Homo sapiens: one gene and its partner. The protein of the gene in region 2 purifies or fractionates together with the protein of the main gene of each other region. This does not show direct contact. Each region holds a gene or a part of one and is shown on either strand. Other genes may lie near its edges.

Evidence for each region.
Region 1: the proteins of FCF1 (region 2) and KLK7 purify together in Homo sapiens (affinity purification with mass spectrometry; 2 studies listed by BioGRID and IntAct, with this or other methods). This does not show direct contact.

The regions. Positions count from the first base shown.
Region 1 is NC_000019.10:50,977,258-50,981,005, forward strand, and holds part of KLK7 (kallikrein-7 isoform 1 preproprotein), read right to left. Parts: intron 3,231-3,748; coding exon 2,983-3,230; intron 2,668-2,982; coding exon 2,531-2,667; intron 435-2,530; coding exon 279-434; 3' UTR 1-278. UniProt on the Homo sapiens protein: May catalyze the degradation of intercellular cohesive structures in the cornified layer of the skin in the continuous shedding of cells from the skin surface. Specific for amino acid residues with aromatic side chains in the P1 position.
Region 2 is NC_000014.9:74,716,060-74,719,807, reverse strand, and holds part of FCF1 (rRNA-processing protein FCF1 homolog), read right to left. Parts: coding exon 3,709-3,748; intron 1-3,708. UniProt on the Homo sapiens protein: Part of the small subunit (SSU) processome, first precursor of the small eukaryotic ribosomal subunit.

The sequences.
Region 1 (3,748 bases), on a different chromosome or scaffold from region 2:
GACCAAGTGTCTTCCGTAAAGACTGTACGAACGTCCAGTTCCAGTGTTTGAGAGTGCTGGTCTCACTGACTCTTCTCCAGCACTGAGGGTTTTGTGTTTCTTTATTTGTTTTGGTTTTAGGTCTTTACCAATTTGATTGGTTTATCAACAGGGCATGAGGTTGGTTTAAATATATCTTTGAGGAAAGGTAAAGTCAAATTTGACTTCATAGGTCATCGGCGTCCTCACTCCTGTGCATTTTCTGTTGGAAGCACACAGTTAATTAACTCAGTGTGGCGTTAGCGATGCTTTTTCATGGTGTCATTTATCCACTTGGTGAACTTGCACACTTGAGTGTAGACTCCTGGGTCATTGGGTTGGCCGCAAGGGAAAGTTCCCCAGGACACCAGACCTTGCAGGGTACCTCTGCACACCAACGGTCCCCCTGAGTCACCCTAGAGGGAATAGAGCCGGAGATTAACTTTGGCTTCAGATCAAAGCCCAACTCATTCTCATACATTCCTCAGTTATCGGTCTTTGTCTTGCAGATTATGGACTTCCACCATAGCCAATGAGAAGAGACTCATTGTCTCTGGGGACTAATGGGAGAGCTAGTGCTAGGGACACACTAGGTCCTTTGAAGACACTGGTTTGACCCTTGGCCAATGAGACCAATTGCAGAGAAGGGGTGGGGCTTCCAGGATCAGAGCACTCTTTATTTTCCAATGTTAAGGACCCTGCTCCAAGCTAGTGGGAGAAGGAACATCATCTCCAAGGGGTGGATGCGTGCCCTGTGGCGCAGGAAAGGGGGACACGATGGTCTCGGAGACCAGGGTGAAGACCAGTTACATAATTTACAGGACTTGGTGCAAAACGAAAATGCAGGGCCCTTTGTTCAAAAATTATTGAGAATTTCAAGACAACAGCAGGAATGCATTAGACTAAGTTTGAGACCCTTCTGAGTGTGGGGCTCTGTGTCCGTGCAGAGCTTGCACATTCATGAAACTGGCCCTCACCAGGGGAGAAGGGGAACACCCTATTCTCTAGGACAGTCATCTCTCTCCCATCTCCTCTATCCCTAACACTCACCATCCCACATCCCCTGACAGCTGAAGGTGCAGATGTGAGCAAGGAGGATGGGTGTGGAGAGACAGAGAGAGTTGGAGGTGGAGAAGAAAGAGGGAAAGGAGAGAGAGACAAAGAGAGATGAGGAAGAGGGAAAGGGTATGGGGAGAGAGAGAGACAGAGAGATGGGGGTGGAAAAGAAGGAGGGAGAAGAGAGACAGACAAAGAGATGAGGGAGATGGGGAGGGTGTGGGAAGAGAAGAGAGAGAGAGATGGGGGTGGAGAAGAAAGAGGGAGAAGAGAGAGACAAAGAGAAAGGGGGGGAAGGTGTGGGGAGAGAGATGGGGTGGGGGTGGGGAGAGGAGAGAGAGACTGGAAGAGAGGAGGAGAATAAAGAGAGAGAAAGAAAGACAGAGATGGGGGAGCGGCAGGGAGAGGAGAGAGATAGAAGAAAGAGAAAGAGAGAGACAGTAAAAAGGAGGGGGCAAGGAGAGATGAGGGAGAGAGATGAAGAGAGACAGAGAAGTGGGGGAGAGAGAGAAAGAGGAGAGGGCCAGAGAGGAGACAGAGAGAGAGGAAAAAAGAGAGAGCAGGGGGGCAGGGAGAGGAGAGAGGGAGGGGAGGAGAGAGAGAGAAGCAAGAGAAAGAGGGAGAAGACAGAGAGCAGAGAGGAGGGCATGGAGAGAGAACAAGGGAGGGAGAGCAAGCTAGCTCAACACAGAGAAAAAACAAAGAGGAAAAGAATGAAATGAAATTATGTCACAAAGAGAGATGTGGGAAGACTGTTCAGAAACAGAGGGGATGACAAAAGGCCAGAAAGAGGGAACAGAGAGGAGGTGGAGAGAAAGAGTGTTTTCCCCGGGACCAGGGCCAGGGTCAGGTGAGTGAGTCATCAGCTTCAGGCACAAAATCTCAGTAACTGCAATACACAATACTTCAATGCAGTACTTAACGAAATCAAATGTAATACATAAAACTGCATGATGGGCATGGTATCCACATTTTAAATGAAGACAGTGCCAGTACAGCGCTGTGCTGAGCCACGCTAGTACTTACGGCAAGGGAAAATTCAGTAAGATCCACCTGCTCTTTATTTAAAATGTGACATTTTGTCCATCATGGACTTCTGCATGAGTTTTTATTTTTATTTTTAAATATTGCATTATGATTTATCTCAATCACTGAGGTTTTTGGTGCCCCCTTAAGGTTTGGGCCTGAGGCCAGCACCTCAGTCTCCTTCCCTGGTCCCACCCCCACTTTCTCACCCCTATTAAACTCTCTGTCTCATCCCCAGGGCCACATTGGCCCCTAAGTAAACTCCCACCCCTGACCTAGGCAGAGAATGAGGTGGAAAAAGCTGAGGAGGCCAGGCCTGGGGGGAGGGCAAGGCCGGGCTTGGTACCCAGTCACTCGGGTCAAGCTCTGTCCCTGGGGCATGCAGACAGGGTACCCAGGACTGGGGAGGAATTGGGGGGGAGGGTCTCACATTGCAGGCGTTTTTCTTGGAGTCGGGGATGCCAGCGCACAGCATGGAATTTTCCAGTAAGTCCTTGTAAACCTTCGTGCAGTCCTGGGGGGAGATGAGCTTGACATCCACGCACATGAGGTCAGAGGGAAAGGTCACTGCAGGGAGGAGCAGGGAGAGCTGTCAGTCAGAGAGGATGGGGGCGAGGACCAGAAGGGCTGTTGTTCAGGCTCCTGGTTCCGAGGGAGGAGGGTCTGGGGCCCAGGACTGCTGGGTCTGAGGGAGGAGGGGCTGGGGTCTGGACTCCCGGGTCTGAGGGAGGAGGGGCTGGGGGCCTGGACTCCTGGGTCTGAGGGAGGAGGGGCTGAGGCCTGGACTCCTGGGTCTGAGGGAGGAGGGGCTGGGGGCCTGGACTCCTGGGTCTGAGGGAGGAGGGCTGGGGCCTGCACTCCTGGGTCACTGAGGCCACCTACCATCTGGGCTCGTGGTAGTGCCCCAGCCGGAGACAGTACAGGTGGTTCCAGGGGGTTCGCAGCGGGAGGGCAGCCTGACTTTCTTCACCATGGATGACAGCCTGGCCTGGCTATTGAGCTTCACGAGCATGAGGTCATTAACATGGGTCTGTGTGGAGTAGCCGGGGTGGCGGAATGACTTCGAGGCCTTGATCCTCTGAGCTCTCCTGTCGCCCAGCGTATCACTGCCCAGGTGCACGGTGTACTCACTGCGAGGAGTGACATTCACAGATTCAGAAGAGACACTGTGACAGAGAGGGTGTGCAAAGACCTGGGGGACGGGGTGGGGACAGAGACCCAGAGAGAGGAGGGGGGACAGAGACACAGAGAGAGGAGGGGAGACAGAGACCCAGAGAGAGGGGAACAGAGATCCAGAGAGAGAGGGGGACAGAGCCCCAGAGAGAGGGAGACAGAGACCCAGAGAGGGGGGGACAGAGACCCAGAGAGAGGAGGGGGGAGAGAGACACAGAGATAGGAGGGGGGACAGAGACACAGAGAGAGGAGGGGGGAGAGAGACACAGAGAGAGGAGAGGGGACAGAGACCCAGAGAGAGGGGAACAGAGACCCAGAGAGAGAGGGGGACAGAGATCCAGAGAGAGAGGGACAGAGACCCAGAGAGAGAGGGACAGAGACCCAGAGAGAGGGGAACAGAGACCAGAGAGAGAGGGGGACAGAGCCCCAGAGAGAGGAAGACAGAGAGCCAGGGAGAGAGGGGGACAGAGCCCCA
Region 2 (3,748 bases):
TGAGGAAATGCATTATAAGCAACTTCCTTTTTTTCCCCCTTTTGAGACAGGTTCTTGTTCCGTCACCCAGGCTGGAGGGCAGTGACATGGACATAGCTCAGTGCAGCCTCGACCTCCCAGGCTTAAGTGATCCTCCCACCTCAGCCTCCCAAGCAGCTGGGACCATAGACATGCTCCACCATGCTCAGCTAATTTTTGTGGTTTCTTTTGGTAGAGATAGGGTTTTGCCATGTTGGCCAGGCTGGTCTCAAACTCCTGGGCTCAAGCAATCCACCCACCTTGGCCTCCCAAAGCGTTGGGATTACAGGCATGAGCCACCATGCCCAGCTTGATTTAAAAAAAATTTTTTTTGTAGAGATGCGGTCACACCATGTTGCCCAGGCTGGTCTTGAACTCCTGAGCTCAAGCCCAGAACTCCTCCCACCTCGGCCTCCCAAACTGCTGGGACTACGGGGTGAAGATCTCGCCCAGCCCAACTTTCTTTTCTTCTTCTTCTTCTTTTTTTTTTTTTTAAAGACAGGGTCTTGCTCTGTTGCCTGGGCTGGAGTGTAGTGGCATAATCACAATTCACTGTAGCCTCAGCCTCCCAGGCTCAAGTGATCCTCCCACCTGAGCATCTGTAGCTAGGACCACAGGTGCATGCCACGATGCATGCTTTTTTTTTTTTTTTTTTTTTTTGAGACAGAGTCTCGCTCTCTCACCCAGGCTGGAGTGCAGTGGCACGATCTCGGCTCACTGTAGCCTCTGCCTCCCAGGTTCCAGAGATTCTCTTCCCTCAGCCTCACAGGTAACTGGGATTACAGGCACATGGTGCTGCGCCTGGCTAATTTTTGTATTTTTAGTAGAGATGGGGTTTCACCATGTTGGCCGGGCTGATCTCGAACTCCTGAAAAGCACTAGGATTACAGGTGTGAACCACCGCACCTGGCCCCCTGGCTAATTTTTAAATTATGTGTAGACATGGGGTCTCGTTATGTTGCCCAGGCTTCAACTTCCATTTTTTTATGCTAGAATTTTTTAGAAGTATATTAATACTGGCCAGGCGTGGTGGCTCATGCCTATAATCCCAGCACTTTGGGAGGCCAAAGTGGGCGGAATGCTTGAGGTCAGGAGTTCGATACCAACCTGGCCAACATAGAGAAACCCCGTCTCTACTTTACACAAAAATTAGCTGGGAGTGGCAGCATGCACCTATAATCCCAGCTACTCGGGAGGCTGAGGCAGGAGAATCACTTGAACCTGGGAGGCAGAGGTTGCAGTGAGCAGAGATCACCCCACTGTACTCCAGCCCGGGCCACAGAGTGAAACTTTGTCTCAATATATATATATATTTTAATACTGAGATCATGAAACAAGGCAATGTGTTCTTTAAGAGGACCAATTTCAGAGCCATGTAGCAGTGAAGTGAGCAAAGGCTTGCAACTGAAGTAGGGAAGCAGGCTCAGGAAAACCACTACAAGGAAAGGGAAAGTAACAGCCTCAGGATTCATAGGCAGAAGAGAAAGCCAATGGGAAGCAAACTATCCTTCCTTGTTGGACTATAAAGTGGAAATAGAAGAGACCAGGAACCATGTAAAGATCAAACAGGCCTTTTCAAGGTAAGAGGAAGAGAAAGGCCTTCCTTTAAGTATAAAGGCAAGCAAGGCCAGGCACGGTGGCTCACGCCTGCAATCCCAGCACTTCGGGAGGCCGAGGTGGGTGGATCACCTGAGGTCAGGAGTTTGAGACCAGCCTGACCAATATGGTGAAACCCGCCTCTACGAAAAATACAAAAATTAGATAGGCGTGGTGGCATGTCCTAGCTACTGGGGTGGCTGAGGCAGAAGAACTGCTTGAACCTGGGAGGCGGAGGTCGCAGTGAGCTGAGATCACGCCAACGCACTCCAGCCTGGGTGACAAAGCAAGACCCTGTCTCAAAAAAAAAAGTATACATATTTAAAGAAAGCCATAAGACTAAAGCTATCCTGCCTAAAGCTCTAACAGTCACTATCTAGATATTACTGGTGGAGGTATAGAGTCAAGGAAGCAATTCATCAAGGAAGCAAAGGGCCATGCTTTGACCCTCTATCCGTTTCATTGATAAGTAGGTCACAGCATTCCTGGAGAAGCAGCTCAATTAGAAATACCATGGGAAATACAAAGAGACTACCAAGTTTAGTGTCTTCCCCCATATGGGGTCACCCAAGCCTCATTCTTAGAGGCCTGGTAGCACCTCAACTTTAGATTATTTCTAAAAGATTTATTTCAAAAGTTTATGTATATAGCTTTAAAAAGTAATACAGAAAGGCCTATATGAAAAAACAATGGTCCCCTGACCATTGCCACCCAATCAATTCTGATCTGTAGAGAAGACTATTTTATTCCATTAGCTCCATTTTTTTCTCATCTGATGGCTACCTTCACATCTTAATAAACGTATGCAGCTAATAAATGTATGCAGCCATTCTTTTTTTTTTTTAGATGGAGTTTCTCTTGCCAGGCTGGAGTGCAGTGGCACAATCTCGGCTCACTGCAAGCTCCACCTCCCAGGTTCCAGCGATTCTCCTGCCTCAGCCTCCCAAGTAGCTGGGACTACAGTCACGTGCCACCACGCCCAGCTAATTTTTGTATTTTTAGTAGATATGGGGTTTCACCTTGTTGGCCAGAATGGTCTCGATCTCGACCTCATGATCCGCCTGCTTTGGCCTCCCAAAGTGCTGGCATTACAGGCGTGAGCCACCGCGAGTGCTGGGATTACAGGTATGAGCCACTGCGCCCGGCTGCAGCCATTCTTAATTAATTTTTGGGCATCTAAAGAATCTGCTTTCTTACCCCTTCACACATTCCTTAACCCCATCTTCTCATCTTGCTCATTTTAATAAATCAGTAAACAACATTTACCATTTCTATCACTCTGCAACTGTTGTTCATTATATAGTAGCCTTTAAAACTTAAAAAGGGAGGTACAAATTTTTCCCTTTGATTCCAGTAATTTATCCTCTATGGCAAAGTTTAAGTCTAATTTTCATTCGTACCTCTAACCGGGTGACTGAAAAATATATAAATATAAACCCGCTACAAATGGGACAGATCTTACTATGATAGGCTTCATAGATGGCCTTACTTTTCTTTTTCCTGTTCATGGTAGTGAAGGAAGATCATTTAAAGGAGGGGATATACAAATACACAAGGGAAATCTATTAATGGTAAATTGCATACCTAGGTGTAAATAAACTACCTCAGATCCTCTGTACTACGAATAAATACCAAACTGAATAAACTTAGGAATTGACCATCATCTATCTAACTTCTAGGGCTGTGATCATAAATGGCAGAATGTCTTATTTAGTGTTTCAACACTGGGGCAAAAGGGAGAACATATCCTTGTTAACATAAAAGAATATAGATACTGAAAAATAGATTTTTCATTTATCTAGAATTTTAAAATCTAGAATTCTAAAACAGAAAATTCCCCTATGTTCAAAATTGATGTCCATAATGATACTCGAAGCATTCTAAGTGTTTTCTGAATTGTGAAAGTTTAATTTTTTCCAGTCAAGTTTGCATTATACTTCAATTCATTAAACATGGTCACTGCTATGGTGACCACTGTAAATTAAATGGCCAGCAATTCAGTTAACAAGAACCCCATCTCCCTCCTTTCATGTATTTGTATAAATATAATTATTCTGAACAAATGTCACGGAAACATAAAAGTATGATACTCACACTTGGCATACAGACAGTCCATCATTGACTGCACTAAGTC